Regions from separate parts of the Homo sapiens genome. Here region 1 is linked to region 2. The links come from fine-mapping of genetic effects on gene expression. A gene starts in region 2. The other region holds a variant in brackets. All regions are shown on one strand. Distances are from middle to middle. Region 1 overlaps MAP7 (microtubule associated protein 7). Region 2 holds the start of MAP7 (microtubule associated protein 7).

Region 1 (16,389 bases), 180 kb before region 2:
TGCCTCCTGGGCGCAAGCTGCCTCAGTCTCCCAGGTAGCTGGGATTACAGGCGCCCGCCACCACGCCCAGCTAATTTTTACATTTTTAGTAAAGACAGGGTTTCACCATGTTGGCCAGGCTGGTCTCGAACTCCTGACTTCGGTGATCTACCTGCCGTGGCCTCCCAAAGTGCTGGGATTACAGGCATGAGCCACCCGGCCCAGCAGTGCTGCTTTGTCTTAACTGGGGTTATTCAAGAAAGTTGGAACTGCCTTAAGCTACATGAAGTGGAAGTAAGTGTTTTTTGGTGACGGCTAAAACACCGAGAGAGATTTCTTTGCAGGAGATTGTTATCACTGAGGGGGCTACTAGTTTATGTGGCAAGGGTAGAACACGCGTTTTCTGACGGCCAGGGCTAGTCTCTGGGTCTTAGAGGTGCAAGTTCGCGTCCCGGGCCTCTCTACTAAGACGCAGCTACCTTCTTTCTCTCCAGGCGCTCTTGCTCTTCTCTCTGGAAATGCTTCTCTCGTTCCTGCCGGACCCTCTCTGCTTCTTCACGAACGCGAGCTTCTTCTTCTTTCTGAAAACAGAAGGTCGGCGTCTGCCTCTGACAAACAGGCGGGCTGCCCGGGTCTCCCAGGGGGTGCCCAGAGGTGGGGGCGAGGTGGCGGATGGAGAAGGTGTGGAAAGCGGGAGCACCAGCAGTCCAGTCCGCACCCTCCTCTGCTGGGCTGGGGCGTCTCCCTGCGGGACTGGGGCCGGGGCCAGGGTGGGGTGCGGCCGCACCTGCCTCTGGGCGCGCTCTGCCTCCTCCCGCTCGCGCAGCGCCCGCTCCTCCGCCTGCCGCTGCAGCTGCTCCTCCTTCTCCCGGGCCTGCTCGGCTTCCAGCCTGCGCGACTCCTCCTCACGGCGAGTCGTCCTCTCTTCAGCCACACGTTGAGCCAATTCCTCTCTCTTTTGTCTGGAAAAAGACAGAACAAAACCAAAACCAAAGACACCTGAGGAGAAATCTTTGAAGAGAGGCCTCCGTCGGTGGTTCTGTAGGGCGGTTCCTTTAGGCGTCCAGTAGAAAAATCCCCACTGGATGCCTTCACCACTGCTAAGGGACAAAGCGCGAAGCCACCCTTAGACTTCCTCCCGCCTTGCCAGCTGCATTGCTGTCCGTGCTAAATAGAAGCAACGTGTAACCACCAATATCTTGGGGAGAGCTGGCTTTTTGGAAGGAATTTAACTATTTTTTAAAGGCTCTGACTTGTTTAATTCAAATAATGTGACTTCTTAGTAATGAATTTGAAGCACCCCAGCCAAAGGGAATCTTTGTAAATAAATAAGGGTCACAGTGTTCTGTCACAGGACAGGAGGAAGACAGCCATGTAAGCTCCCTGTTGGAGCCAAGGGAAAGGCATGGCCAAGATGGCGGTCCAGCGAGTGCATGAGATCCTTCCCCAGGGTACAGTTGTGTTCGTTTGAAGAACAATTATATTGACATTCGTCTTATTAGGCCCAGAAGATGACCAATTAAACAAACTGTTTCTGGAATACTGCCTGGCAGGCAATCATGGGGCATGTAAAGATCCCACCTGGCTACCCTCCGAGAGGAGTTTTATCTGGAAAGGAGAAAACATGAACCCTTATTATGCAGCCTTAATGTGATAATTACAAAGATAAAACGGAAACCTGGAGATTGGAGATGTGTTAAGTAAAAAAGCAGACTGTACAATTGTACCTCTGCTGTGGTTATAATTATGTAAATATGTATATGTATGTATATATACACACACACTCCCATACTGTTGAGAGACTAGAAAGGACCACCCAAAATGTACACTATTACTGAAAATTGGTATGATTATGGATTTTTTTTTTCTTTAAAGCTTTCTCCATCAATGTTGTTGCACTGTCATTAAAATAAGAAAACATGGCTGGGCATGGTGGCTCATGTCTGCAATCTCAACACTTTGGGAGGTTCAGGTGGGAGGATCCCTTGAGCCCAAGAGTTTGAGACCAGCCTGGGCAATATAGTGAGACCCCATTTCTATTTAAAAAAAAGAAGAAGATGTGATTTAAAAAACAAACTGCTTAGTAGTCATAGGAAAATTAGGTAAGAGTAATCCTGAAAGAACTAATCCATTCACTTTCATCAGTATTATCACCTCCTCCCTCTCAGAGGGGTGATGAGTTAATCCAAAGTATCACTGACACCATGGTGTGGAGCAATGTCTCCCATTTACCTTTCAAGCTCTTCCTGCTCCCTCCTCTCCCTTTCTTCCTTTTCTCTCTGCTCTCGGGCCAGCCGCCTCTTCTCAGCTAGAAGCCTTGTGGCCTCCTCTGGGTCGGTGGTGCCTGCAGAAGTCTTAACAGAAGCACTGGCATTCACAGTGGATGACGGGGCTGAGACCATGGCTGGGGTGGGGACCGGGGCTGGAGCTGGGGCCGAGGCTGGAGCTGGGGCCGAGGCTGGAGCTGGGGCCATGGCTGGAGCAGCTGCACAAATAGGTACAAGGAGAAAACCAGTTGGAAACAAAATCCAAAGAACAAAACCAAAACTAGCATTCCCCACATCCAAGGCCTAGAATTTACCATTATGAAAGAAAAGGGAATGTTTATTACTGTGTGTTCTCACGGTTTCACTATGTTCTATCTGTAACCAAGCAACAGATAAAAAAAATCAGTATGTGTAAGTAAGACATCCAACAAAGCTGACACTCTGTCACCAAGTCTTATTTTTATACCAGTTAAATCAGTTAACATATATTGAATGTGTACAAAGCCTCATGTTAGAGTCTGTGGGGAGTTATACACTGAGCAAAAAGAAGATGAGATCATCCATTTGTCTTTTATTGCATTTGAAAATTCCTACTCTTCGGTAACCATTCATTACTAGAGCAGCATCCTCAGCATCCATGCCATGAGTCCAGATTCAGCCTGGGAAGATGATACCCTATGAAGAGGACCCTTTTGTCTCCCCAGAGCTGTCTCTAGGTCTGAGATGGGAGGAGCTCGGGGCCTCTTTGGGAGCTGGTGCTCATTCTGCTTATATATCCCAAGCTGCCAAGATGCAAGATGGGAGCAGAAGTTCTCTGGCCTTACTCGGATTTAGGAAGATGACCTAGAGAGCTGGTGCCCCAGAAGCCCCACACTGATGCTCACAATTCTGCACCACAGTGAGCAAGGCACCAGCAAGTGCAAGCTCTGGCCCCTGGCTGCTCCAGCCCCTCCTTTTGAGAGTCACATTTCTACTTCTGCTTCCACAGACTTTTCTCGGCCATCATGATGCTCTAGCCCTTCTTTCCTTCCTTTTTCCATGGAAACAAATACTGGACTCCTCCTTTTTCTAACATTTTAACCTGTTTTGAATCATCTCTTCTTTCTTTGCCCCACCCTCTATCTTCAAATTAAGTCTTTTGAATGAAGACAATTCTCAACTAGAAATATTGAATTCACAGCTCCAGGTGGTTTTAAATTTCTAAATAGCATCTGGCTAGCCTGGCAGAGGTGAGAACCAGTGGGCCTTCTGGAAAAAAATTCTGACTTCTATCAAGCACACAGGCTATACCAGGGGTCCTTAAACTCCAGTATGCACAGGAATAGCATTGCCAGATTTAACTGGCCACCCTGTGTTCTATCTGGCAACCATGTTTAGGAATCAACTGACAAGCTTAGTATCTTTCAGAGTCCTCATATCCACCACTACATATTCTGACTTAGTAAGTCTGAGGTAAAAACCAAGGGTCTGTATGTCAAAACATTATAGATGTGGTGGTTTAAAAATATTTCCAGTTTTCCTCAGCTGCTGCCAAGCTGCACTCGGTCCCTCTGAGGAATGTAGGGCCACATTGAAGTGGAACCCTCACTTCATCTGGCAACTAGCACCTTGCCTGGCAGTGCCAGCCCCACACTTGCTCACACCATGGCCTCTGTTTCTGAGCTCGCCTGCATTCTGCATAAGGCTCGGCCCTCATTCTGCATGAGGGTGAGGTGACCGTCAAGGAGGATAAGATCAATGCCCTCATTAAAGCAGCTGGTGTAAATGTTGAACCTTTTTGGACTGGCTTGTTTGCAAAAGCCTTGGCCAATGTTGACATGGGGAGCCTCATCTGCAATGGAGGAGCTCGTGGACCTGCACCAGCAGAAGGTCCTGCCCCCTCCACCAATGCTGTTCCAGCTGAGGAGAAGAAATAGAAGCAAAGAAAAGAGAGTCTGAGGAGTCCAAGGAGGATATGGGCTTTGGTCTTTTTGACTAAACCTCTTTTGTAACAAGTTCAATAAAAAGCTGAACTCTTAAAAAAAATTCTTTGAAAACTCTCTCTTCAAAAGTTGGAGACTATGTTTCTCCTTGAGTGTGAGTTCCACCTAGTGACTTGCTTCTACTTAACAGAATGTGGCAGAAACATTGGTGTGCGACTTCTGAGACTGGGTCATAAAATACATTGTACATTCCTCCTCATTCTCTCTTCCAGGTCACTCACTCTGGCAGAAGCCAGCAGAGCAAGCAGATAGATGAGGACATTCAGCAATAATATGGAGCGGTCCATGTGTGGAGAAGCTGAGGCCACCCGCCCCCGGCCTTGTATGTAAGCCACCTTTCAGATCTGGTTGAGTCTTGAGATGACTGGAGCTCTAGTGGACAGCTTGACTGCAATCTCATGAGCGGTCCTGAGCAGGGACCACCCAGCTGTGCTGCTGCCAAATTCCTGACCCAAGAATCCATGTGATATGATAAATGTTTGTTGTTGTTTCATGCTGCTAATTCATTATGCAGCAATAGATAATGAATACAACAGGTGATTTTGATGCAGGTGCTCTGAACACATTTTGTGAAATGGACTCAGCCAATAAAAGCACTGAGAACCTACACCTGAATTCACGTGTTTGTGGCTCTATCAATAGGCTTTTGGATGTATGATTTGAGATTTACATTTCTACTTCTGCTTCCACAGATTTTTTTCATGGCTATTATGATGTTCTATGACCCTCCTTTCCTTTCTTTCTTTTTCCATGGAAGCAAACACTGGACTCCTCCTTTCTCTACCATTTTCACCTGTCTTGAATCATCTCCTCTTTCTTGCCCCACCCTCTATCTTCAAATTAAGTCTTAAGTAGAAAACTTTGGAATGAAGACAGTTTTCAACTAGAGATATTGAACTTCAAGCTCCAGGTGGTTTTACATTTCTAAGTAGCATCTGGTTACCCTGGCAGAGGTGAAAACCAGTGGGTCTTCTGGAAAAAATTCTGACTTCTATCAAGCACACAGGCTACGCCAGGGGTCCTTAAACTCCAGTATGCACAGGAATAGTGTTGCCAGGTAATTTTTTACTTAGCGTTGCTAAGTAAAAAACTATTTTTAAGCAATGCGAAGTTAAAATATTATACTTAAGGAAAGGTATTAAACTTAACCTTAGAGTAAAATTTCCAAGTCTCCAATAAAAGAAGAAAAGGAAAACAAAAAAAGCTTCATCAAAACAGTGCGGGAGAAAAAGAGAGAGCACCCAGACCACAGGTGAGTTTGCTCTTACCAGGGCCAACTTCTGGTTCAGCAGGTGTCCGCTCTTCAACTGTGGCTTCTTCTACCTTCACTAAAGGTGCTCTGCCCTTTAGTGAGGGCTCATTGGCAACTTTCTGAGGTTCCTTCTCAGGATCTTTCTTCTCAGGCTCCACTTTGACTTCCCTCTTGACAGGGCGGATGTTGCCGGGGGATGGGGGCCGGACCTGAGCAGGAGCAGCTTTGACTGAGCCGGGTGGCAAGGAGGATGTCGGTCTGGGTGTGCCAGGCAAATGAGGAAGAGACTTGGACGGAAGCCTGGGCCACAAACAAACAAGGCAGACAAAAGGGGACACATGAGAACAGGCTTGCCAGAACCTAGAACACGACTCGATGGAAGAGAATGCAGATATTTAGCTCCGTGTATTTGTTTTTTATGTGGTAGATACAGAAATAGAGTTGCTTTAGGGAACCATTCCAATTTCTCTTTTTTCTTTCCTTTTGGGAAGAATGCTATTCCCTAAGTCAAAGCCAAACAGCATGAGAAGAACAGTTCACTTTCAGAGGAGAGAGCTACTAATTCTCTAACATGAAACAACCCAGCCAGCCACTTATATTTCACTTACCAAAGTCGGGAGCGAGCTGGTTGTCTTGCTTTGGGATTAGATGGAGATACAGCCCTTCGGGTGCCAGATGTGAGGAAGAGTACATTTTCTCTCTCTCTTTCTTTTTTATAGCTCTAAGTTCAGAGAAACTCAATAGTTAGATTTTTCCACAAGCGAGGCAAACACACTCACAATACTCAACAGTGGAGCTAGAAACCATTGAATGACTTTTAAGAAATTTTCTTAGCTATGTCACATATACCCATTCCATCTCAACAAAAGGCCCTTGTTAGCTTAACACTGAACAGTATAACTGAATTAACACAATGTGACACTAATAAGGTGATTCCGGATGTGTTGGAGTCATATTTGTCAAAAAGCATATGTGTGTACATACTTTTAGAAAGCACCTATACTTTGTGTCTAAAATTAATTACCTGAAGCAAAACGTCCCATTCTGGTTTATCCCCCACAAATGTCAAATGTTACTTTCATTTTTTAAAAAATTTTAATTAAAACACATCTTTTTCTTTTTAATTCTTCAACATTTTCCCCCCAAACACACTATATCTCAGTCTTTAAAAAAATTATATGCCTGCTATATTAGACATAAACTCATTTTTTTCTTTTATATTGATGTTGTATAATGGAATCAAGTCCTTCTTCACCTACTGTCCTCTTGCAGCAATAGATAACTGATACAATAGGTGATTTTGAAGAAAAGTCAGGTTTAAAGTGAGGAATTTCAGCTATTTATTTTTTTGCTCTTCCTTACCAGGAATAAACTGAAATCTGAAGGTGGGCCAAAACATCACCCCTCCCTGATTGCCAACTAGGAATTCAGCTTGAGAGATGACACTTTCCTAAGTCAAAATGGGCAAAGGGAAGCCCAGAGAAGTGTTCCACTACTCTAAAGTCAATGAAGACCAAAACAAACAAACAAAAATTGTACAGAGCAAAACAGACCCATTCCAAGTATCTGAAACCTGACAATGCCCTCAGGTGGGAGGGGCACGTGCTGGAGGCACCTATGTGAACACCTGTCAGGAGGGCAGACTGCAAGCGTACATGGGAAGGGGCAGAGTATTATCTAGCCCCAGGTCACATGAACTAGTACTGTACCTTTTCTTCTCTCCTTTTCTGCCTGGCTCAAGCATCGACTCCTCTTTTCCTTCCTTTCCCTTTTGTTCCCCTCAGTGTCCCTTTTAATTGCTTCCCTCCATTTTCCTTAGCAGCATCCTAGTTGATGGTCTGGGTTATCAGAGGAGCAAAAACATTTAAGTGTCAAATAATGCTCATTGTCTCCCTGGGATTTCTAAACAGAAAAAATGAAGAAAGAGGCAGAGAAGAGCTTCACAAGGTGTGTGCCAGCTCTGCATCATTTCCAGCTGCTCAACCACCATTTCTCCCATTTTAGGTCCCCAAAAGTAGGAGGTGGGGCCTCACAGAGCTGCTGTGGGCTTTGGGTATCAAAAGCTGCAGCCACCATATGGGGCACTCCTGGCTGGTGTACAGGGTGGCATGCCCAGGTCTTTTCCCAGGGGAGACTGGGGTTAAGTACCTCAAGTAGCCCTTCTTTTTTTTTCTTTTTCTCAAAACATTTTGATTTGGCTGAAATCAGATCAATGGGTGATGTAAATGGGAAAAAGACTCAAGAGGGACAATTTTTGATGTGGCGTGGGGGTGGTTGGGGATTATTATTATCTGTGCCTTGATAATACAGGGATCAGGGAATGAACCTATATAAAGGTATATAATCCTAGAATTACAGTACCTTTGAGCCAATTCTTTCTTTTTTAAAAGTTATCTCCTTTAATCACCTAGGGGTAGGTGAGCAGAGGAGGAATGGTTTGGAAAAACACTCGATACTTAACACCCTCCCAACCAGGGAGTTTTTTTTTTTCTTTCTTTTTTAAACCTTTCAGTCCTTTTGTTACTCTTATATCCAACCACCCATTTGGGTACCACACATGTAAAGGCACTCCCAATTCTCATCCTGATCTGAGTTAATAGCCCACCATCTATACAATCATCTTTCCTATTAATAGTTTCCACAATGCTGAGGGGGAACACATACTCAGCAAGTCAATGGTCTGGGCAACATATCAGCAGGAAAAGGACTTTAATTTTATAATTAAGGTAGGTTTAGAATACAGTATAAATATCCTCCAACAGAGACGATTCACTGACAGATACTTTAACGCAGTGCTGTTTAATAGAACTTTCTGATATGATGAAGATGTTCTAAATTTAGCCACTAACCACATTTGCCTATTTGAATTTAAATCTAAATTAATTCAAATTAAGTAAAATAGAAAAGGAAATTTGAAAAACAACTCTATTTCCTATAGCATCCAAAGGAATAAAGTACTTAGGAATGAACTTAACAAAGGAGGCTAAAGATCTGCATACTGAAAACTAGAAGATAGTGCTGAAAGAAATTAAAGGCAACACAAATAAATGGAAGGAAGTCCTGTGTGCAGGGATTAGAAGATTTAATACTGTTAGGATGTCACTACTACCAAAAGGGATCCACAGATTCCATGCATTCCCTATTGAAATCCCAATATAATTTTTTATTTTTGCAGAAATATAAAAATTCAACCCAAAATTCACAGAAAATTTCAAAGGATCCTGAAGAACCAAAATAATCTTGAAAAAGAACAAAGTTGGAATTCTTACATTTCCTGATTTCACAACATATTACAGGTTGAGTATCCCTTATCCAAAATGATTGGGATTACAGTGTGCAGATTTCAGATTCTGGAATACTTGCATTAACACTTACTGCTTTAGCAGCCTTAATCCATATAACTGGAAATGTGAAATGCTCCAATGAGCATCTCCTTTGAGTGTCATGTTGGTATTCAAAAAGTTTCACATTTTGGAGCATTCTGTATTTTTGAATTAGAGATACTCAATTGGTGAAAAGCTACAGTGATCAGTACTGTGTGGTAATGGTATCAAGACAGATATAGATATATGGGGCTGGGCACTACGACTCATGTCTGCAATCCCAGCATTTGGGGAGGCCGAGATGGGTGGATCGCTTGAGGTCAGGAGTTCAAGACCAGCCTGGCCTACATGGCGAAACCCTCTCTCTACTAAAAATACAAAAATTAGATGGGCGTGGTAGCACATGCCTGTATTCCCAGCTACTCAGAAGGCTGGACATGAGAATTGCTTGAGCCTGGGAGGCAGAGGTTGCAGTGAGCTGAGATTGTGCCATTGTACTCCAGCATGGGTGACAGAGTGAGACTGTCT[C/CAA]AAAAAAAAAAAAGATATATAGACCAATGGAATAGAATCCAGAGCCCAGAAACAAACCCTTGTGTATATGGTCAAAAGCTAACACCACTCAATGAAACAAGGACATTCTCTTCAACAAATGATGCAGGGAAAACTGGATATCCAAATGCAAAAGAATGAAGTTGGACTCTTACCTTCTAAAATATACAAAAGTTAACTCAAAATGGATTAAAGACTTAAATGTAAGACTTAACACTATAAAACCTCTAGAAGAAAACATAAGTGAAAAGCTTCATGACACTGTGTTTGGTACTGATTTCTTGGATATAACACTAAAAGCGTAGGCAATAAAGTGTCAATAAATTAACAATAAACAAATGGGACAACATCAAACTTAAACACTTCTATATATCAAAGGAAACAATCAGTAGAGTAAAAAGGCAACCTATGGAATAGAAGAAAGTATCTGTAAGTCATATATTTAATAAGGGGTTACTACTAGAATATATAAATAACTCTACAATTCAACAAAAACAAAATAACCCCATTAAAAAGTGAGCAAAGACTGGAATTGCCATTTTTCTAACGATGACACATGAAAAGCCAACAAGCATATGAAAATATGTTCACCATCACTGATCATTAAAGAAATGCAAACCAAAACTACAAGACATCACCTCACATTCCTTAAGGTGGCTGTTATCAAAAAACAAGATCACGATTGTTGGCGAGAATGTGGAGATACAGAAATCTTTGTGCACTGTTAGTGGGAATGTAAAATGGTACAGCTGCTGTGGAAAATGGCATGGAGGCTCCTCAAAAAATTGAAAATAGGATTACTATATGATCCAGCAATCCCTATATATCAAGTGAAATTGAAAGAACAATCTCTAGAGATATCTATATTCCCATGTTCATAGCAGCGTTATTCACAATAGCCACGAGGTGAAAGCAACCCAAATGTTCACCAACACATGAACTGATAAACAAAATGTGGTATACAAATATAATGGAATATAATTCAGCCCTAAAAAGGAAGGAAATTCTGACATATGCTATAATAAGAATGAACCTTGAGGACATTATGCTAAGTGAAATAAGCCAGGCACAAAAATTCAAACACTGCATGATTTCACTTTTATGTGGTCTATAAAGTAGCTAAATTCATAGGAACAGAAATTAAAACAGTGGCTGCCAGGGCCTGGGGGGAGGGGGAAATGGGGAGTTGTTTAATGGGTATAGAGTTTGAGTTTTGCAGGACTTAAAAAGTTCTGGACATTGGTTGCACTTCAATATGAATATACTTAACACTGCTGAACTTTAGAATGATTAAAATGGTAAATTTTACGTTACATGCTTTTTTTTTTTTTTAACACAACTAAATATTTTTTAAAAACTTAAAATTTAGCTTGTCAGTTTCAGTAGCCACTTTCCAAGTGCTCACTGTGGCCAGTCACTACTGAATTCCACAGTGCAGCTCCAGGGTATAAATGACTCTGAGTCGTTTTCTGTTAGTATTTGCCTAAATACTTGGTTGTAAAGAGGTAAAAAGACAGCTATGTGATTAAATAGAGAAAGAGGAAGGTAATAAAAACAAAACAAAACAAGGCTCTGGATCATGTGATGACAAATCTCTCATTTAACCTGTCAGCCACAGGTGGCCCTCAACCTTCTCTCAAGGAGTGTTAATTTTTGTTTTTACCCAGAACAAGATAGTTTTTCCATGGTAAATGCTCTTTTCCCCTGCCCAGTGAGTACCCAACTTTGGGGCCAACCTGTTCTGTTTAACTACGGCTTTCTGTCTACAGCTAAGGAGGATCTCTGAAACACCAACACTCTAATAAATTAAAACTTTCCAGACATCAAAGATTGTTTCACCTGTGGCTTAGAGGGTTGGAGGCCTGACTCAATCATGAATCAAACACTGATTCCAGAAAGGCCGATGGAGCTTGAAAGAAAAACAGGCTGTAGGCAAAGCCATCAAGCTCTCACAACCCTGAATTATCCTTTAAGCAAAATCCTTTTAAGTGTCCATCAGGTTTATAAATCTGAATTGCTCTGGGAAGTTACGATTTTAAGAAACTGTTTCAGCCTTTCATCAAAAGGGTCATACTGTTATCCTGGAGAGAGGCAATGAGATCTTCTAGTTCACTGGTGAGTCCTTTAAGACTAAAGTACAATGTCTAAAGACCACAGAACAAGGTTTATATCTTTCAACTGACACCAAATAAACACAAGATTTAAAACAAAGAAGAAGATTCCTGGAGACATACAAATTACCTCATTGCATTTATAGCATGGTGAAAATTAACATTACCTCAGCCCGTAATAATAAGTACAAATTATATTTTTCACTTACAAAATCAGAATTTATAGCACAGCCTAACAGCCTTTTACGAATTAGTGATATAGCAAATGACTAATGTTTTCAAAATACTTTTTTGACTAAATTTTAAGATCCCTTGACAGGGCCTTGACAGGGATTAGCCAAGCAGGATAAAAATTCTTTATCTTGCTTTTGAGTGAACCACATTTAGAGTTCAGCCAGCTTCTGGATATGGTTGAAATAAAATGCCAAGGCAGCAGTCCAAGCCCACTTCCCCTTCAAAGGCCATTTGGTTTTCCTACTTTCAAAAATGAAAGTATTCTGGCATTGTACTTATGTGTATGGACGCTCCAGGAGGGTAGGGCGTCCACTCATACATGCTTGAACAAAGAACAGCTTTCATCTTCAAATTCAAATGTTTAGGGAGAGCAAAATCCCCAAGTGAAGAGGAAGTGAGGGGACACTACTGCCCAGCTAGCCAGATTCATGATCAATGGGAAAGATGGGATGGTGGATGTCACGGTCTCCCCCTCTTACGCCCACACCACAGCTCAGGGTCATGTACAGTCTGCACAGGAACAGCACTGGCTCCCAGACTTGCCCAGCTGCTCCCAACAGCTACTCACCGCTGTGCCATGAATGATCCTCCTGCGAGAAGAGCCCTCAGGTGGTGTTACAAAGAGTTTTGGTCGATCCATCGAATTTCTAGAGTGTGCAGCTTTGTAGGGCATGATGATGGGGCTGCAAGATGCTGAACGAGGACAAATGGGGATAACTAGGGTGCAGGTGATTGGTTTTACACACAAGAGTGCCAGAGGAGCAGTTGAAGAAAGCCAAAAGCAGGTTCAGGAAAAGGAGCAAAGCAGAGATAGAGAGAAAAGTAGGAAGAAGATGTTATTACCTAAAGGTGCCCAGAACCATCATACTCAACTGTCCTTACAGTCCTATGAATTTATGATGAGTCCAAAAGGAAGGCATGTCCACGTAAAAAATCTGGAATATATTGTTAGCTCTTTGGCTCTTTAAATACTAATGAAAGATGTAGAAGTAATCCAGTAATTATGGAGAGCAATGGTCTTATATTCCTATTAGCTGATGGTTCTGGAAAAAAAACTACATTAGTGATAAAAGATAATTTTTATATAAAGACTAGTTTATAACCAGACTTTTCCTAAATTAGCTTTAAGATGGAACAAAAGGTGGAAAGAGAGGAAGCGTGCAAGCAGGCAAGCAAGATATACTACAACTGTTTCAGGATTCAAATTCAACAGCCAGCAGGGGAAAAAAGCAACCAAACTTAAAAAATGTTAAGTGAACAAGTCTTACCAGGTGTTAAGACTTGTCACGAGGATAAGTAATACTTTTCCAGGAAAATATTCTGTACATGTCTTATTTATTTATAGGCAAACCAAATGCATGCTTCCGGGTTTTCCCAAAAGCCAAGGCATTTGATAGTTCATAAGAAGCAGCATTAGAGCATATGGGGAGATTAGCTATATCTATTTAAAATGTTGAATAGAACAGAAATATGTTAGATCTGCCAAATGTAAGGTTGAACCGTGAAGAACCTTTACAGTTTTACTCAAGATGGAATATTTTATGAAAAACTACATAGCTTCTGACCATTACCTTCCAAGGAACACTGTCATGAATCAACTTATTGCAAACAACAGTGGGTTTAAGGAAATTCATATAACACTGCATAGGTATCAAAAGTGTGAGTATTCAGGTTCTAAGGTCCATTTTCAGATCTCATTCAGAAATTTTATTTCCTAGCAAAAATAAGACAATTAAACACAAGTATAGAGAATACTATGTATTTGGACATGGTTATAAAAGGACTTCTCAACTGTAGTCTTTGTAGCAACCCTTTAAAGAAACCACTATGCCAGCTGAATGTAAGAGGATTAATAACTTAACTCAAAAGTTCACAAGACAAACTTGGGGTGATCTTAACTTCAGGATTATAGAGTTGAAAAAAGATTTGCTATTTGGGTTTAATTTACAGACAGAAAGTCAATCAGATTGCATCTTTATTAATGCACTCTTTCATTAAATGCCTGGCAGTATCTTCTGGCTATCACTGCATGGTTTTGTTCTGCTTTGAGACAGGATCTCACTCTGTTGCCCAGGCTGAGGTGCAGTGGCACGATCTCATCTCGGCTCACTGCAGCCTTGACAGTGAATAGATTGGAAACCGGTCTCTTTTCCCATCATTTGAAAACAGAATTCTGTTTCTTCAGGACAAACTAAAACACTTTTTCATTTCTTCAGTTTTCCTTAAAATAATATATGTACGTCTTAATTGGAAACTGACATAAAGCTTTACTTCCAACCTTAATGGAGAAGGAAGGATTTGTATTGTGAAGGAAGGGAATCTCTTTGTCATTTTGCCTGGGATCACAGGAAAAACTCTTTGAAAATAATCTTTTCTCAAGCGCCACAACAAGGCATTTGCATTTTCTAGACAAGAGTTCACTAATGCAAAATTCTTCCAAGCCAATCAAATGCATTTAAGAAATAACATCCTGGCACAAGGCACTTCTGGGGATTAATAACCGGGGGCAGAGGCACGCACTGCTCAGGGCACAGCCGGAGGCCATTCACCTTGCTCAAGGATCAAGAAACCCTAGAAAACAGCTCTGCTTGGAGGCCATGGGTCTGACACTGAAAAAGGAATGAAGTACAGAAATATGATTTTTCTCTCAAGTGGAAAATAACAATTTCATGAAGTATCTATGGAGCATTTCCTGAAGCTATCATGGATGTAAGCCAATATCACCAGGCCTCTGGTTTATTCTTTATTTTAATGTTGACATGATACTAAATATGGGTTGAAAATATCCTTAAACCTAGCTAGTATAGTCCATAGAAAAACATCCTCAAATTTAGTCCAAAGAACATCTTTTGGCTAAAATAAACCTAAGTTTCTTGTAAGGATATTAGATTTCATGGAATTCATTGCTGCACTGAATAGCAAGTACTGAAAAACCTGAAATCTTCAAATCAATTATTTGAATAATCTTGCCCTTCTTAAGAAATAATAACAATATATAGTTATTTTTTCCCAGAGTACACTTCATATCCCAAATAGTTAATTAAACATGAACACTGTCTCACGAAAATGTCTTTAAGAAAGTCTCCCACAATATATGTATTTGATCCTACTCTTGGTGGTAAGTATGCATTAATTGAACTCGTTCAGGATTTTCTATACGAAATAATGGGTGCAGAGAAAAGATAATGCAGGTCAAGTAGTTGAAATGTAGCATAGCAAAAAGAAAAATGGCATAATATGGTAATACGGTACTAGCATTTACTGAGGGCCTACTATGTGCAGGTACTAGTCTAAGCATTGCATATACATTATTTAATCCTGAGCTCTAATAATCACTTGTATTTTGAATGTCCCGGGGAAAAAAAGTATAGAAAAGTCAACCCAAAGCAGTGGCTGCAAATGAGAGGTGTGAGACTGGGAGTTCCAGTTCTCAACTACTGTATTGTTTGTGCAGGGAGTTTGCAATCACTCTATATCCCAGGGCTAAAAGTAGCTGTTTAATCTGCTGATGTAACCCAGTACAGGACATATTATAGGTTACCTTCTTGCCAATGGCAATTAGGAATATGATGAGGTTGAGGGACAACACTAAAATGGGAAAACATGAAAGAATAATCAAGGACAATAGATGAAAAATAAAAATGATGGAAAATGTGGTTTTGACAAGATAATCGGAAGAGATGTTTGCATATATACTTCTAAATGAAAATTTTAAAAAACCCCAGGAATTTTGGTTCATTAAACATAAGCTGTATCGATGAAACTGGTGACAATGAAGCAGGCAATGTATTGACAAAACAGGCAGCTCAAGTAAAGGCTATGCACTCTTTCACACTAAAATAAATTACAGAAACATATCAACTTGTGAAAAGGAGAATGGAAATGTGTCAAAATAAAGAGCCGGTTTGCAGATAAAAAAGCACCTTGGTTGAGCATAACAACAAAGAAGGGGAGAAGATGGGCAAGTAGAATGGGTGGAAAATGAGGAAACAGTATTGGAAAAGACTAGAGGGAGAGTGAAAGAAGTGACAAGAGTTAGTGATGACAAAAATAGTAAAGACAATTTCCCAGCTGTGAGGCAGTCCTTTAGCACAACACAGCATACAAGGGGAGATTCAGAAGCATGACAGCCATAAACCAGCTAAATGCTAGAAAATAGGACTGAAAAGCGGTTTTTTTTTTTTGAGACGGAGTCTCGCTCTATCCCCCAGGCTGGAGTGCAGTGGTGTGATCTCAGCTCACTGCAAGCTCCGCCTCCCAGGTTCATGCCATTCTCCTGCCTCAGCCTCCACAGTAGCTGGGACTACAGGCGCCCGCCACCACGCCCGGCTAATTTTTTGTATTTTTAGTAGAGACGGGGTTTCACCGTGTTAGCCAGGATGGTCTCGATTTCCTGACCTCAACGATCTGCCCACCTCGGCCTCCCAAAGTGCTGGGATTACAGGCGTGAGCCACCACGCCCGGCCTGAAAAGTGGTTTAAAAGCTTTTCAATTAGCTAAAGAAAAACTCATGACTTGTAGAAAAGTGTGAAATTCATAGGCATAAGAAAAAATATTGAAATAAGCTGTACTTTCTCCTCCTCCAGGAAAACCTCAGATGCAATGTGATGGCTCTGACAGGAGTGTGACTTTACAGAGAACACAGAACACTGTGGTTCAGCTAGTTGACTGCACATTTGCACATAAAGCATCATT
Region 2 (16,389 bases):
CACCTCCAGGCTTTCCTAATTCATGTGAGCATGGGTTAGCATTAAAAAGGCACTATTTTACTTTGAGGTGATTACATTGCTTTACTCAAAGAACTTGGTGGAATGGCTAAAGTTTTAAAAACAAACAAAACTAACGATACTAAGTATTAGTGAGGATGCAGGGCAACCAGAACTCACATACACTGTTTGTAAGAATGTAAAACCGTAGAGTTGCTCTGGAAAAGCTTGGCCATTTCTTATAAAGTTAAACATACAGTTACATGAATCAGCAATCCCACTCCTAGGTATTTACCCAGAATAGATGAAAACTATGCTCACACAAAAACCTGTAGGTAAGTGTTTACAGCAGCATTATTCATAATTGCCAAAACCCGGGAACAACTCAAATGTTCTTTGATAAACCATCTGTGATACTTCCATACAATGGCAAACTACTTCATCAAGAAAAAGGATGTACCACATCCTAACATGCACAACAGTGTGCCTGAATCTCAAAAACATGATGCCAGGTGAAAAATTCAGACTCAAAAGGTTACACAATGTGGGGCTGGGTGCAGCGGCTCACGCCTGTAATCCCAGCACTTTGGGATACTGAGGCGGGTGGATCACCTTTGGTCAGGAGTTCATGATCAGCCTGATGGGGTTTAGTAGAAACCCCATCTCTACTAAAAATACAAAATTAGCCGGGCATGGTGGCACATGCCTGTAATCACAGCTATCCGGGAGGCTGAGGCAGGAGAATCGCTTGAACCCAGGAGGCGGAGGAGGTTCCTGTGAGCTGAGATTGTGCCATTGCACTCCAGCCTGGGCAACAAGAGTAAAACTCCGTCTCACAAAAAAAAAGAAAAAAAGGTTACACAATGTATGATTCCACTTTTATGACATTCTGGAAAAGGCAAAACTAGGAAGATGGTAAACAGATCAGTGGTTGCCAGGGGTTAGGTGTAGGAAGAGAGTCTCACTACAAAGGTGCAGCATTAGGGAATTTAGGTTGGAGGCAGAGGACTCTTTGGGATAATGTTAACGGTGGTGCTTACATTACCTATACAGTCAACAAAACTAAAAAAAGAAAATAAAAGAAAATCCGTAATTTTTTTTGCACACAAATTATTTTTTTCGAGAAGGTGTCATGCTCTGTTGCCCAGGCTGGAATGTGGTGCTACCATCTCGGCTCACTACACCCTCCGTCTCCCAGGTTCAAACAATTCTCCTGCCTCAGCCTCCTGTGTAGTTCGGATTACAGATGTATGCCACGACACCTGGCTAATTTTTGTATTTTCAGTAGAGATGGGGCTTTGCCATGTTGCCCAGGCTGGTCTCGAACTCCTGAGCTCAAGCGATCTGCCCGCCTTGGTCTCCCAAAGTGCTGGGATTACAGGCATGAGCCACCGCACCTGGACTGTACGCAAATTTTAGAATAGATTTTTTAAAATCCCTCTGCCTATTCAAGGATTTGTAATTTTTTCCTCTCACCAGCAAGCTTTATGGGAGGGTCTATTAAATTGGCTACCTTTCTTCCCAAACTGCTTATCTCACAATCACTTCTAATCTGATGTAGCCCCAACTCTTGCACCAACAACTGAAATTCCTCTTCTGGGGTTGGTCAGTGACTATTTGTAACCAAACCAACAGCTTTTTATAAAATGTCTTCATCAGTCTTTGAATCCCTTACCTCTCCATCCCTCTCAGCAGGTGTGACATTGCTCAGCTGTGCTTTTCCATCTGTCTGCTTTGCTGGCTCTTCCTCCTCCCATGCTTTACAGGTCGTCTCACCCCTTTGTGGTTTTTCTGAGCTCTCCTCACTCCCAAACCTTCAGCTATTATTCCTTTATGGAGTGAATCCCAGAGTCCTGACCTCTATTTTTCTCTTTTAGTCCTATACTTCCAGTTGCCTTTTGAACATTTCCACTTACAGATCTCTCTTGTACCACACATTTTCATGTCTAAAGCAGAGAGGTTTTTTTCCTGTTTCTCCCACCAAAACCTGATTCTGCTGGACACAGTGGTGCATGCCTGTAGTCCCAGCTACTCGAACAGCTAAGCCGGGAGGATCACTTGAGCCCAGGAGTTCAAGTCCAGCCCAGGCAACATAGCAAGACCCGCCCCCCATCTCTTTGGGGTAAAGAACAAAACAGGTCCTCCTCATGAATATTTTCCAATAAGTCAATGAGCCAAACTCAAACTTGGAAAAGTCTCATATGTCACCTTTTTACCTGCAATCCTTTGACACATGCCCCTGCAGAACCTTAAATTAATCGTCTCTTCCTATTGCCATGCTAATGACTGCCTGGATTTCTGCAGGAATCTCAAAGTTGGTGTGTATGTCGCTGAACTCTTCTTCAGTCCATCCTCAAGTCCACGTTGCTACTTTGAAATGAGGACCAGCTGAGTAGACCTAGCCCTTCATTGATCTCCAGAGATTTGGCTAATCTGGCTAGGCAGATATTCCTCATGCATTCTCATCCCTCCAGGTGCACCCTTCCCAAAGCAGTAAAAGAAAAAAAAAAAAAAATCAATGGAAGAGAATGACTTTCCCAGAGGGAGGAACTTTGCTTTCATTAGCTAAAGGCACAGCTGAGCTCTTGTTAGAACTTGCAATCAATATTTCAAGATTCATGGGCACAGAACTACCTGATTATTCCTGCTTTAATCAATATCCTTTATTCTCAAGAATCCTCAACACTTCCCCCACTACCCTACCCCAGAAAAATGTACTAGCCTCTCAGTTTGGCCTTCAGCCCTTCCACAATTTGACTTCGATGAACAATCATTCCTAACTGACCTAGGACTTTCTTTGAGCTTTACACATGTGTCAATATGACCAAAACTTTGCTCTTTTTCACACCTGCATCTTTTTCTCCCTTTCCTCCATCTAATTTTATATCCCACTTACCCATTTTTAAAAGTTTATTTTTTTATTTTTTAAATTAAAACAAATTTAATTTTTTTTTATTTTTGTGGGTAAATAGTAGGTATATATATTTATATGGTACATGAAATGTTTTGATACAGGCATGCAATGTGAAATAATTACATCATGGAGAATGGGGTATCCATCCCCTCAAGCATTTATCCTTTGTGTTACAAACAATCCAATTACACTCTTAGATATTTTTAAAAGTACAATTAAGTTATTGACTATAATCAATCTGCTGTGCTATCAAATAGTATTTGTTACTATTCTTATTCTTTCTAACTTTTTGTTTTTTGAGACATGGTCTCGCTCTGTCACCCAGGCTGGAGTGCAGTGGTGCAATCTTGGCTCACTGCAACCTCAACCTCCTGGGTTCAAGTGATTCTTCTGCCTCAGCCTCCCAAAGAGCTGGAACTATAAGCGTGCGCCACCACACCAGGCTAATTTTTTTATTTTTAGTAGAGATGGGGTTTTACCACGTAACCCAGGCTAGTCTCAAACTCCTGGCCTCATGTGATCTGCCTGCTTCAGCCTCCCAAAGTGGTGAGATTACAGGCGTGAGCTACTGCCTCTGGCCTTTTTTTTTTTCAAACCATTAACCATCCCCACCTCCCTGCCACCTCCCACCCCCTACCCCCACTACTCTTCTCAGCCTCTGGTAACCATGCTTCTACTCTCTCTGTCCATGAGTTCAATTGTTTTGATTTTTAGATCCTACAAATGAGTGAGAAGATGCAATGTTTGTCTTTCTGTGCCTGGCTTATTTCACTTAACATAATGATCTCCAGTTCCACCACTTTTTAAAATTTAACTTCAGTGCTGTATCCAGTATGTTCTTCCTGCTGACCACAGCCGGAAGTGATTCCTCCTTCACTGAACTCCTCATAACCTGCAACTGTTTGTTGGTGAATTTTGTCTTCCTTGCTAAATTCAAGGATCATTTGTTCAACAGCCTTCTAACCACCATAATGCTGAATACACAGAAGGTACACATTTCTTATTCTAAGCCTCAATATTTTCAATTCTTACATCAATACGAGGCCCGAGTTTTTAAAAATAACTCTTCCAAATGATTGTTTCTCATGCATTGGGAGGCAAAGATGTTAGAATTTTTTTAGAGAAAATGCCAGTGTAAATAAACTGTGTAAAAATATTTCACACAAGCCTATCAATATTACATAAATGCATGCTCCTGAGCACAATTGCCTAGTCTAATAATAACGTTTCCTCCTACTTAGCAAGATGTAAAGGTAACAGCCATATAGGATGGGAGAAAAGCTATCTAGCTATGTGAATGAAGCATCTCTTTCAAAGGGGACAAGCTTAATACCAAATTGACGTCTGAGCCCTTATTTAATTGCAGATATTTAATGTGGACCCTTAGAGTTAAGTGACACCTACAAGATCACTTTTTGATTTGGAAAAGTTCATGAAAGGATGGTCACGAAAGAGGCCATGTTCACCACACAGGTTGCTAAAATGGACAAAAAGCCCAATTCCAGATTCTAAGTCATGACCCACTTCCCAAAATATCAACAGAATTGACAGGTTATTGGCATTAACTTATTCCTTCGTGCATGAAAGCTTCATGAATTAATCAAAAGCAGCTTTAAATTTGCTTTTAGTTCAGGAGGTTTTTAAAACAGGCTATCAGACTAGGAAATTAGTGCTGTACACTCGCTTTCCACAGCTCTTGAACATGAACATAAAATTAAATATACAAAGCTTGGGTAGAGGCAGTTTTGTGAATATCACCCATCGTAGGTCGACTACTCAAAAAAGGCTGAAAAAGGACTTGACATCCTCTAGTGGTGATGTCTTAAACTTGTTTCCAAGGCAATTTTTTTTTTCCCAGCTCTTAACTTTGGCTGTTGGCAAGAAAAATATTATATTGGAAGAACTTTTCATCCTCAAGAAAAATAAATGTTTTCGCCACAAAGAATGTGATTTGACTAACTTTGAGAATATATACCCACAGAAATAGGGTTTTTAAATGTTGGGTTTATATAATAGCTTTCAATATGCTTAAGAACGGTCTCATTTCATAGGCCACACGCCACCACTGTCAATTCATCTTTGATACACATATACACACACACACACTCACACATATAATTCTGAACACATTACAGGTATCATTTTTATAATAACCTGATATTCTCATCTAAAGTGCCCTAAAATTAGACCAGTCTTTGTATAGAGACCCAAAAACTAAGAGTTATTTAAGAGTGGACTCTACCTCATAATAATGAGTTCTAAAAAGAAATAAAATTAATCCCTCAAGAAATGTTGCCATTTAAGGTGGCAATTTTCAACTCTTGATGGTAATAGTTTCTCTGTCCACGGCCACCCACCACCACCACCCCCCCCCACCCCCCCAACAATTCCATACAAACTTCTGATTGTTTAAAAAAATGAGACTTGCAGTATTTGGATGTGTATAATGTGAAATATGTTCACCAGAATGAAGTGCTAAATTAAAGTCTCATATTCAGATATAGGTCATGTGTTTTAAATATATGGAATAACTTAAGTTGTTGAAATTCAAACAATCTCACTTGTTCTCTCAAAATAACTACCACCTAGATTCAAAAAAATACATTTACACCTTCCTTCTTTCTTTGGCACCTGCTGACACAAATGCTTCTGAACACTAAAAACATTAATAGTAATCTTGGGGTAGAAAAATAGGAAAGAGATGCGGGGCCAGAATTAAGTTTTCAGTGAAATTATAAAGTATAATTATTCAAGACCATATATAAAAAATGTCCTTTGGAAAATGAAGTTTTTAGGCAAAAGTGTGGAAGAAATGTTTTCTATGAAGGAGATAACAGCCAATTTAACTCCCTTTTTAATAAAAGAAAATATTACACTGACAGGCACATGGTTGATTTGTATATTAATTGTTGGAAGCACGGCCTATTCCTTAACATGCTCAGGCACTGAATATCCTACAGTTTGTAGTCAGTTCACTTATGTCTGAACAAGTTGTTCACGTGCAGATTCTAGAAAGTTTATTTTTGAGCACAAACTAACACTTAGCTCGCTAGAACAATGTTGTTTCACATGCAGTTACTGGGTCAGGGTTAGGAACGAAAATCATGCCGTATATTTACAAATGAGGATGCTCCTCTCCCGGGGCCCTCACTTGGGGGAGCCCCGTCCCAGCGTCTAGCTCATCAAATTCCCGAAAGCAATTACAAAGGCATCTCTTCTCCACCCCAAAACAAAATAATGATCTACCAATCTTGCGAACACATTAAGACAAACTCCCTACAGGAAGGAGCATGACTTAAACAAGTTCAAGATACTTTGTCAGTCTTAACCTCAGGTATCTTGGCTGAAGGGATTAAATCATTAGACTTTACGTACCCAACCTCTTCCTAGCAATAGCAGATACATAATTTGCAAATACTGTTTCAGAGCTCTCTGGACCTTTCACGTTAAAATAAGCATACTTGATGGTGGGGAGACAGTGATTCTTACATTTAGGAAACAAATGCTTCCGATTGTGACCGTATGGAAGTGGAAAACAGCTTGCAATTGGAGAGTCTAAGAATTGAATTTCTTTTTAAAGTAAGAAACTGCCTCACTGCCCCCATCCCCAAGTGTAGGAAGATATAGAAACAGCTTACTGGCCAAGAATAGAAGAGGGAACCAGTGGAGAGGGACGGATTTGCAAGATAGCCTCTGGAGAAAAAAAAATCACGAGGGAGAAAAATCGGCTTCATACTATGGAGAGATGGGCGGGGTTGGGAAGCCTTGCTGCTGGTCTTGGGAAGCCTTGCTGCTGGTCTTGGGGACGTGATCCCCTGTCCCTAAGTGTGCCCCTGGAGGTTGTGGGGGAGGGGTATCCTCAACACAGAGGCCTGACCACCAAATCCCGGGCTGCAGAGCCAACAATCCTCCTTTGGGCTCCTGCACAGACTAAAAACAAAAAACTCTGAGAACTCCGACAAGTCAACGAAAGTCTGATCCCGTCAAGCCCGCACTCGCAAACCCCCACCGTGCTGCACTGGGCCCCGGCCCTCCCGAGCTCGGTCCCCTCGGACGACGGTCGTCGCCACTGCGGGCACCAGATTGGGGGGCGGGCCGCTCACCCCGCGGTCCTGCCCCACACCGACCCCGCTGAGGAGCCCCCGGCACCCGGGGCGACCAGGGAAGGCGGGAGGAGGTGCCCAGAAACTGCTCGTCCTGCCAGTCGCACCTGGCCGACGACTCTCTGGCCACTGGTTTGGTCTGGGGGATACGATTTCCCATTCAACTGAATTAGACCCGAGGCCGCGGCGGGGAGGGCAGCGGCCGGGGTCTCTCCGTTTCCTCCCCCGGCTCGCCTCCACCTGTTGCGGGAAAGTCGCGGTGGAGCGCCCGAGGGCGGCCGCAACCCCGGCCGGGGCCGAGCCGGGCTGGCCGAGCCGCGGCGGCGAAGGGCGGGGGAAGGCGCTCTCGGAGCAGGGTGCGCGGCGCGCAGGGCCGGTTGTTCCGGGCCGCGGCCGCGCGGGCGGGGAGGGGGCTGCCGGCGCCGGGTGATTTCGGTGCCAGCCCGCCGGCCCCGCTCGCCGTCCCCTGCCCGACGGGACCCCCACTATCCCCGCTGTGCGGTCACCTGTTTCGCTTCGCACTGCGCCGTCGCCGCCCCTGTGGCCGTCGCCGCCAGCTCCTAGCTCCGCCATGGTGCTCCGATGACGCGCCCGGAGAGCCGCTCCGCCCTTTCCTCGGCTTGGCTCCCGCCGGCCCCCGCCTCCCAGGCCAGCGGCCCAGACAGGTGAGCGCAGTCCGGGGATGGCGGAGGGCGGGGACAGAGAGCGCGGCAGTCGGCTGCGGCCTGGGCCTGGCGCGCCCCCTCGCGGGCAGGTGCGGCGTGGCAGCCGCTCCGACCGCCGCTGCCGAGTCTCGGCTGGAAGAGCGGCGGGCGGAACCAGTACCTCAGTCCGGAGCTTCCGGTCGCCGCGGCCGACCAGCTGAGGGCTCCCGGAGATATGGAGCGGGGTCAGCGAGGCCTGGTGGCGCCTCCTGGAGTCTGGGACGAGCGGCGGTCCGAGGAGCAGCCCAGGTGGGGCGAGGGTACGGAGACGCTATTTCCCTCCGAACTCTGAAGTAGCCAGGTCAGTGTCGGCTCCGCGAGGGCTGGAGTTCACGGTGACAGCCGGCAGAGCATCTGATGCCACGTGGAGAGGCGAAGTACATGGGTCGGATTCCACGCTGGGAGCCGGCCTGGATCTGCGCTTTAGGAAGCCACTGCGGGCGACCCTATCTTGTCGCCAGGACTTCGCATCTGATGAGCCTCAGGGCACACAAGTTAGAGAGGCTTGTGCCGGCTGATGTGGCTTTTCTTTTTCTTAGTTTCCGTTTAGTAAACGACCTTGTGACTTCTGGCTTGCTCAGGAAGACCAGAAAAAAAGGCAATAGGTAACGAATTTTTCTTTTTTTAAAGAAACAGATTATTGGCCGAGGAAAAACCAATTTCGCTCTAAAGGATAAGCAACAAAATACTGAGGGGGGAAAAAGCCTACACAAATGGAAACATACGGCACAAAATCAAGGAGCGACCAGTTCCGCATGGTTACACTAAAATGCACTGCACTCCCACTCTCTGGCTTGGCTGAAGATAACCAGCAAGCTCTGAACAGTTTAAAAGCCTTCCAAGGACTGCAGCAGCACTGGACACACAAGAGAGTCGAGAACAGTATTGGATTTATTGTTAGGGTTACAATTTTCACGATCTTTGCATGCAAAACTTGCCACTCTGAGCCCAGTGAACTATTTTTATTTGGTTTACTTACTGGCTTTCTGGATGACTAGGTAGAGCTTTAACTAAAGAACACTTCTGCTGTGGTCTGTGATGATGAATTTTCCCGTAGTGTCATTTCTATAATGGAATAGGCAAACTGACCATTTAGAATGTGATATTCCTAAATCACATTCAAATCAGTCTTATCAGAGACTTCTAATCAATAAAAATAAAGCACCAGATGGCTAGAGGTAGTTTTTGACCTCAGCTTGGGCCTCAGCAAAGATTTTTTGTGTTTTTTTTAACTACATTAAAACATCAGAGTTTAAGACACTTTTCTTTGAGCATCAGAAATACTCTCAGCTGAATTTAGAGTTGAACTATCCGGAAGAACCCTGGAGAAGGAGGGTGATTTATTTTCAACTTTCTGATTTACCACCGACTTAAATCAACCAATGAGTTCTTTCTTTGACCAAAAAAAAAAAAAAAAAAAAAAAAAAAAAAAAAAAAATTCAAGACTTGTGATGTTTCTATTTGTTTTGTTTTGTTTAGTTTGGTGTGTGCTTACTCATTGTCCCATTCTTTTGATAACCTGTATTTATCTGCCACAAGTTAAACAAAAATAAATGAAATAAGGAACACACCAAAATCCTGCACTTAGGCCCTGTATAGACAGTGTGTTCCAAACCTAAGGAGGTGTCTGCAACAGGGGAGGCTGCTGAGTGACTCTGCAGAGAACAGATGACATCTGTTAAATGTCAAACACCATCACGTCGTACTTCAAGTTGTACTTTACTTGGAACATGGAAGCCATCTGTCTGGAGCTCCCACATCCATTTCAAATCTTCAGGGTTCCCCATTCCAGGGGAGGAGCTGAACCTCCTGACACCGTCCACTTCCCTCCTGCCTCCTTCAAACATCATCCCTTTTTTCTCCCGAATCCCTAAATGTTTCTGCACCCAAGGGCTCTACCCCAATAAACACAGCTAAGACTCTTTGATTCTTAAAATGTCTTCCTTTAACGTCCCACCCTCCAGAATCTATTGTCGTATGTTTTGTTCACCAAAGGTAATAAAAATAAATGTGGATTTTGGTGCCGTTATTTTTCAAAAAAAGCTATATATTAATAGTTTTTCTTGCTTATGTATACAAATCAAATTACTTATTTTTAAATCCATCATTCCCCTAGAGTTTCTGCAGCACTTGATCCTCTAATCACCTTGCTCTTGGTCTACCATTGGCTTGGTTTTTCTCCTTCCTCTGTAGCAGTCCTTTCGTCTTTGTTGACTCAGATTCTTCCTCCCTTCTAATCCTCCAATATTTTTACCATCCCCTAATTGTAAACCACAGGCTTTTTATCTTTACTGTCTCTCACAGCCCTCATTTACTATTACTTCCATCCCGGATCCTGGTGACTCCCAACTCCAGAATATATACCCTTAACCTCACTCCTGACTTCCACTAATACATTCTGAATGGTCCCTGCACAATTCTATCAAGATACCCTGCTGTTAATTTAATATGTTCCAAACCACATTAATCTTGCAATATACAATCACTTTACACATACCTCTCCCTTGCTCAAAAACCTTTAATAGATTCCCCGTTCCTATATAAGTAAATATTAACTTCACCTCCTCACCATCACCACCACCACCCCCTAATTGGGCCCTGAGCTCTCTACTACCCATTTCCACTTTTCACCTCTGTAACTCATATTTCTAGCCCATGGAGTTGTTCATTCTCCAGAACACCTTCCAAATCCCTGCTTTCTAGTCTTTGTGCTTGAAGCTGCTCTGCCCGAAGTGATGTCCTTCATCCTGACGTATTTAATAATACTTTCCCTTTGAGGCCCAGGTTAAGGTCTACTTCCTCCATGAAGCCTGTTCTTCCTGCCCTGGCTCCCAGCATGCCTGTCCTTTGGACCTGGCCAGGGCTTGCTGGGCTTGATACTTGTCCAGCTGTTAAAATAGACTAGGCATGAGTTATTGCAAATTTGCCTTCTCAATCTGATGCACATTTTTGGTAGTAGGGTCTTTGTCCTCTACTTCTCTACAGGGTGTCCATAAAGTCTAGAACTATCAGTTATTTTATTTGTTCACGAGTTGCAGATGTTCTTGATGACATCATGTGCACTGCCTGCATTCTGAACTTGGTAGGCATGGTATATATCTTTTGTGTTGCTACCGTGCCTCACACACAGTGGGCATTCAAATGGGTTAATAATTCCTCAATGCCAAGCTTTTTTATGTGGTGGCCTAGGGATGAACGAAACCAAGTATCCAATGACAGAAGAAAGAGATCAAAATGCAGTTAAAAGGAAACATTAGATCTACTTCTCCCAGCAAATTCCTGTTTTGTTTCTTTTATAACACTGCCACCACCCCTGCATTAACTGTTCTGTTTCAAACCATCTTTCCAGGCTCAGCTCTGCACCTTCACTCCTCTGGAAAGCTTTCCTTGACCCCTTCTGACAGTAAATGTAACTATAGCACTGACTGCACCACTGTTGTTTCTGCTTTGTCTTGATTCCTTGACAAGAAACTTCAGGGGAAAGAACTGTATCTTGTTGGTGCACCACAATATGTAGTACCCAGTATTTAATAAATACTTTTGAATGAAGGATAAGTGATGGCAATAGCAAGCATATCTCAGTGTTTACTGTATGCTAAGCATTGTGCTGAGCACCTCTCCTGCATTGTCTTTTCCTTTTTGAGACAGAGTCTTGCTCTGTCGCCCAGGCTGGATTGCAATGGCGTGATCTCGGCTCACTGCAACATTCACCTCCTGGGTTCAAGCAATTCTCGTACCTCAGCCGCCCGAGTAGATGGGATTATAGGCGTGCGCCACCACGCCTGGCTAGTTTTTGTAATTTTAGTAGAGACAGGGTTTTGCTGTGTAGGCCAGGCTGATCTTGAACTCCTGGCCTCAAGTGATTCACCCACCTCGGCCTCCCAAAGTGCTGGGATTACAGGCACAAGCCACTGCGCCCAGCCTCCATTTTCTTATTTACATCTTATAGCAGACCTATGTGGAAGGTACATCATTTCCTCCATTTCACAGATGAGGAAGCTGAGACTTGGAGAAACTAATTCAGTTGTTCCAGGTCACAAGTCAAGTTACAGTTTTGCTTCAGGCCTGGGTGTGTAGCCTCCTGCTACGCTAAACAAATGATGAACGTTAACCATCTTGCTATTCCCTCTATAGAAAGGGGCTCTCCATTTCCCTCTCTAGCTGTTACCTGAAATAAGGAGGTGAAGCTTGATCATGTTAAAACACCTGTGAAACTAATTTTTAAAAAGGGTATCTGGGCCCAACCCCAGACCAGTAAAAACAGTTTTCCGGCTGGACACAGTGGCTCATGCCTGTAATCCCAACACTTTGGGAGGTTGAGGCAGGATGATCACTTGAGCCTAAAAGTTCGAGACCAGAGTGAGCTGAACATAGTAAGACCTTGTCTCTACAAAAAATTTAAAAATTAGCCAGACATGGTGGTGCATGCCTGTAGTCCCAGCTACTTGGGATGCTGAGGTGGGAGGACTACTTGAGCCCAGGAGGTCAAGAATGCAGTGAGCTATGACAGTGCCACTGCATTCTAGCCTGGGTGACAGAGACTCTGTCCCAAGAAAAAACAAATAACAACAACAACTCAGTTGTCCCAAGGTGGTGGCATCAATATTTTTGAAAAAGCATCCAAGTCATTTTAATGCGAAGCTGAGTTGAGAATCACTGGCCTAGATTGATCCTAAAAGCGTTTCAAATGCAAACCTTTCCATAATGGAGTCTTCCATAATGGAACTGTCTTCTTTTGTGCCTGAGACCCAAAATTCTCACAAATGGCTAATGATGTTGGCCTGGGAGTGTGTTAGAACCCTGTAGGGACAGAGGATCATCTGCTCACAAAGACAGGGTAAGAGGAAGGTACCAAGGAAAGATTGTATCCTTGAAGATTTGGTTTATGGTGGGTAGCTGGATCCTATATACAGTCAAAAGAAGCACTTCACCATTAGAATTGAGAAGATGAACTGTGGCTTAATAAACGGCTTACTCTGTGTTTCAGTATGAGCCAAATGGCATATCATTGAATTTATACCTCACTTATTTCAGAATATCCACACAGGATACCAGAGGCAACTCTGTCCTCCAAATTAGGATGTTAAAAAAGAGGCCAGAAGCAGTGGTTCACACCTATAAGCCCAGCACTTTGGAAGGCCAAGGCAGGAGGATCACTTGAGGCCAGGAGTTCAAGACCAGCCTAGATAACACAGTGAGATCCCACCTCTACTAAAAATTTAAAAATTAGCTGGTTGTGGTGGTGTGCCTCTGTAGTCCCAGCTACTCTGTAGGCTGACATGACAGGATTGCTTGAGCCTAAGGGGACAAGGCTGCAATGAGCTGTGATCGTACCACTGCATTCCAGTCTAGGCAACAGAGTGAGAACCTGTCTCGATCAATCAATCAGAAAACATTAGTGAGAATGTTTTCAAAATAAAGATGTCTTCTGCTTTGTCAAAGACTGTTGTTTATGAGTGAAATCATGATATACAAACAGCTCTATGTTATTTTTATCCTGCCTAATAAACAGGTTCCTCTGTATTTAAGAAAATGTATTTCATTTATCCATCTAGGAGCATCAGACTTCCTTTGATCAATATGGGCAGGCTCATAAAAATATACTACTCAGCTTAAAATAAATAAAAATGTTTATCCAAATATAAGAAAATTAAGGAGACAGAAAAATACAGTATTCTTGGCCAGGCATAGTAGCTCACCCCTGTGATCCCAGCACTTTAGGAGGCTAAGGAGGACGGATCACTTGAGGGCAGGAGTTCGAGACCAGCCTGCCCAACATGGCGAAACCCCATCTCTACTACAAATATAAATTAGCTGGGTGTGGTGGTACACACCTATAATCCCAGCTACTCAGGAGGCTGAGGTGTGAGAATCACTTGAACCCGGGAGGTGGAGAATGCAGTAAGCTGAGATCACGCCACTGCACTCCAGCCTGAGCAACAGAGCAAGACTCTGTTCAAAAAAAAAAAAAAAAAAAGCAAGCAGTATTCTCCATTAAGATGGTCTTTGCAGACCCCTTAAGATATACCATAGTTATCCAAGATAACTTGGGGCCTTGAGAAAAATATACTGACTTTCCTTTATTCTTTTTTTTCTTCATCCTCTTTTTTTTTTTTTCTTTTTTTTTGGTGAGACAGGGTCTTACTCTGTTGCCCAAGCTGGAGTGCAATGGCACAATCATGGCTCACCGCAATCTCGACCTCCCGGGCTCAAGCGATCCTCTTGCCTCAGCCTCCCATGTAGCTAGGACCACAGGTGTACACCACCATGCCTAGCTGAATTTTTGAGTTTTTGTAGAGGTGGGGTCTCACTTTGTTGCCCAGGCTTACCCTCTTTCTTAAACCTCTGTTCCTCTGAGGAACAACCTGAATGTCAGTTGTCTGACTGCTTGAATAGAAGACAGATTTTACTTAATGTTACAGCTGGAGAAATGACTGGAAATTTAACACAGCAGATTATCTAGTTTGTCAACACAAAATAAAAATTCTTTAGAATTTATCAAAACAGTATGTTGAGAGTCTCTTTAATTTTTAGAGTAAATATGACACAATGGATAGCTTTAGAACAAGCTAACATTACTACAGTTCAAGCATGTGCAACTGGTACAGTTCAGTAGTACATAAACGACTCAAACAAATGTACGACAGGTCAGAAACTTAAGTTACAAAATAGAGTCAATATTACAATTAACACAGAGAAGTAAAAACCATTGCTCTCAGATTCTGCACACTTAAAAAAACATAAACTTTATACAGTAATTGAAATTACGCATTTCTACTCAGATTATTAGAGCATATTACAAACACACAGAAGCCTAAACAGTTATGGTCACATTTTGGTTTTGTTCCAGTGGTGCACGATCACATGAAATGTTACATCCGTTTTGTGTGAAATAAACATTTGGCTGAAGTGCAATAGCTGCTGCATTAAAAATATTTCCATAAAAATGCTTAGATTAAAATCTTCCTGAACATTAGGGTTCTAATGTTCAGGATTATTTTAAGAGTCCTTATGAAGAGTCCTTAAAAATTATAGAAATAGATGTAGTTAGGAAATTTCAGTGTGTTTTGTCTGTTTTTTTTTTTTTTAACATGAGTAAACAAATACTGGATTTAAAGTGCAGCGCCTTTCTCCTCTCCCTTCGATTTTCCCACCCCCAAGAAGATCAGCTCTGTATTAATTTTTAGAATTTCCATCGAAGATTAGATTGAGCAACAGTCAAGTCTGTTTGTTTCGAAAGTCAATGATAGCCTTCCACAGTGTGCACAGCATCCCTCCCCTGTTTAAAGACACAAGAACATGGTGAAACGAACATTTCATTTGAAACATTGCCCTTGAAATAGAAAAGTGACTTCTTAGCTTTCATCTGCTCTGGTCAGAAGAAGATCCCAAAGTCTGATCAGTTATTATGTATTCTTTTTGTATATTTTTTCTCATCTTCCCTCCATTCCTTCCCTTTTCACTCCCACAAACTGCTATGTCCCAAAACATCATTTTAGAGTTTCAGCATTTTTGAAATTTGTCTTTATAATGGTGGGTATAATAGTTTTATGCTTGGGCTGGGCGCGGTGGCGCATGCCTGTAATCCCAGCACTTTAGAAGGCCGAGGCAGGCAGATCACGTGGTCAGGAGATCGAGACCATCCTGGCTAACACAGTGAAACCCCGTCTCTACTAAAAATACAAAAAAATTAGCTGGGCGTGGTGGTGGGCGCCTATAGTCCCAGCTACTTGGGAGGCTGAGGCAGGAGAACGGCGTGAACCTGGGAGGCGGAGCTTGCAGTGAGCTGAGATCACGCCACTGCACTCCAGCCTGGGTGACAGAGTGAGACTCCATCCCGAAAAAAAAAAAAAAAGTTATATGCTTGGCCTTAATTAACAAGAAATTATATCAGATTATACCAGGTTTTTGGAGGGCAAGTCAGCACCTCCTCCAAATATTTATTGAGTATAACACCATCATGAACTCAATTAAAGCATTTGTTTAAGGCAGCTTCAGAATATCTGCATGGACTTAGTCTGCATCTTATTCAAAAAAATTCTTCCAGTTGATTTTCACTTACTAATATAGAAATATTGGTTATTAGAGCCCTCAAAAATATCATTGTCCAACTAACTCAGTTTACTCAGAGCAGCTAAGAGCTAGAGAGCTCTGTCCAGAACTACAAAGCTAATTAGAGACCCAGCCTGGGAAGATACTCAGACTTTTTGATATTTGCCTGGTGCTCTTTCCATAGTGACAACAGAAAGAAAAGTGGTACCTTAGTCTCAAGCATTTTAAGTCATCACGTGTAACATAGTAGAGAACATCCAATAGTGTATAATCTTCAGCCAAAAACTGTAGAGAAAGTAGAATATGCACAAAAGATGTTTTATATAACTTTAATAAAGCACAAACTCTATTCATAATGTAAACCTTGACTATAATTAAAAATGAATCTAAAAATGAAATCTACTAAAAACACAATCTTCCAGGATTATTAGGGGAAAGGCCTCCCTGTTACTCAATAAATACAAAGAAATGCATCCAGGCCGGGCGCAGTGGCTCACGCCTGTAACCCTAGCACTTTAGGAGGCTGAGGCAGGCGGATCATCTGAGGTCAGGAGTTCGAGACCAGCCTGGCCAAAGTGGTGAAACCCCATCTCTACTAAAAATACAAAAAATTAGCTGG

What was found.
Region 1: its variant is fine-mapped to the expression of MAP7 in macrophages (Nedelec 2016, PIP 0.95).

Annotation. Positions count from the first base shown.
Region 1 is chr6:136,360,239-136,376,627 of GRCh38, forward strand. MAP7 (microtubule associated protein 7) reads right to left here. Exons shown (of 18, transcript NM_003980.6): 8 at 12,263-12,387; 9 at 6,089-6,201; 10 at 5,497-5,780; 11 at 2,212-2,464; 12 at 767-941; 13 at 459-560. It also overlaps the pseudogene RPLP1P8. Among named protein-coding and RNA genes, the nearest start is that of BCLAF1, 79 kb to the left of the region's middle. The variant C/CAA (reference allele first, on the strand shown) is at 9,332.
Region 2 is chr6:136,542,822-136,559,210 of GRCh38, forward strand. MAP7 (microtubule associated protein 7) reads right to left here and starts at 7,601. Exons shown (of 18, transcript NM_003980.6): 1 at 7,521-7,601. The coding sequence starts at 7,587. It overlaps MAP7-AS1 (MAP7 antisense RNA 1), which reads right to left and starts at 9,684. Exons shown (of 1, transcript NR_186370.1): 1 at 7,902-9,684. MAP3K5 (mitogen-activated protein kinase kinase kinase 5) reads right to left here. Exons shown (of 30, transcript NM_005923.4): 29 at 15,979-16,055; 30 at 14,225-14,997. The coding sequence ends at 14,937. It also overlaps the pseudogene RN7SKP299. RefSeq lists enhancers at 6,437-6,975, 7,514-8,051 and silencers at 7,273-7,322, 7,333-7,512, 7,553-7,902.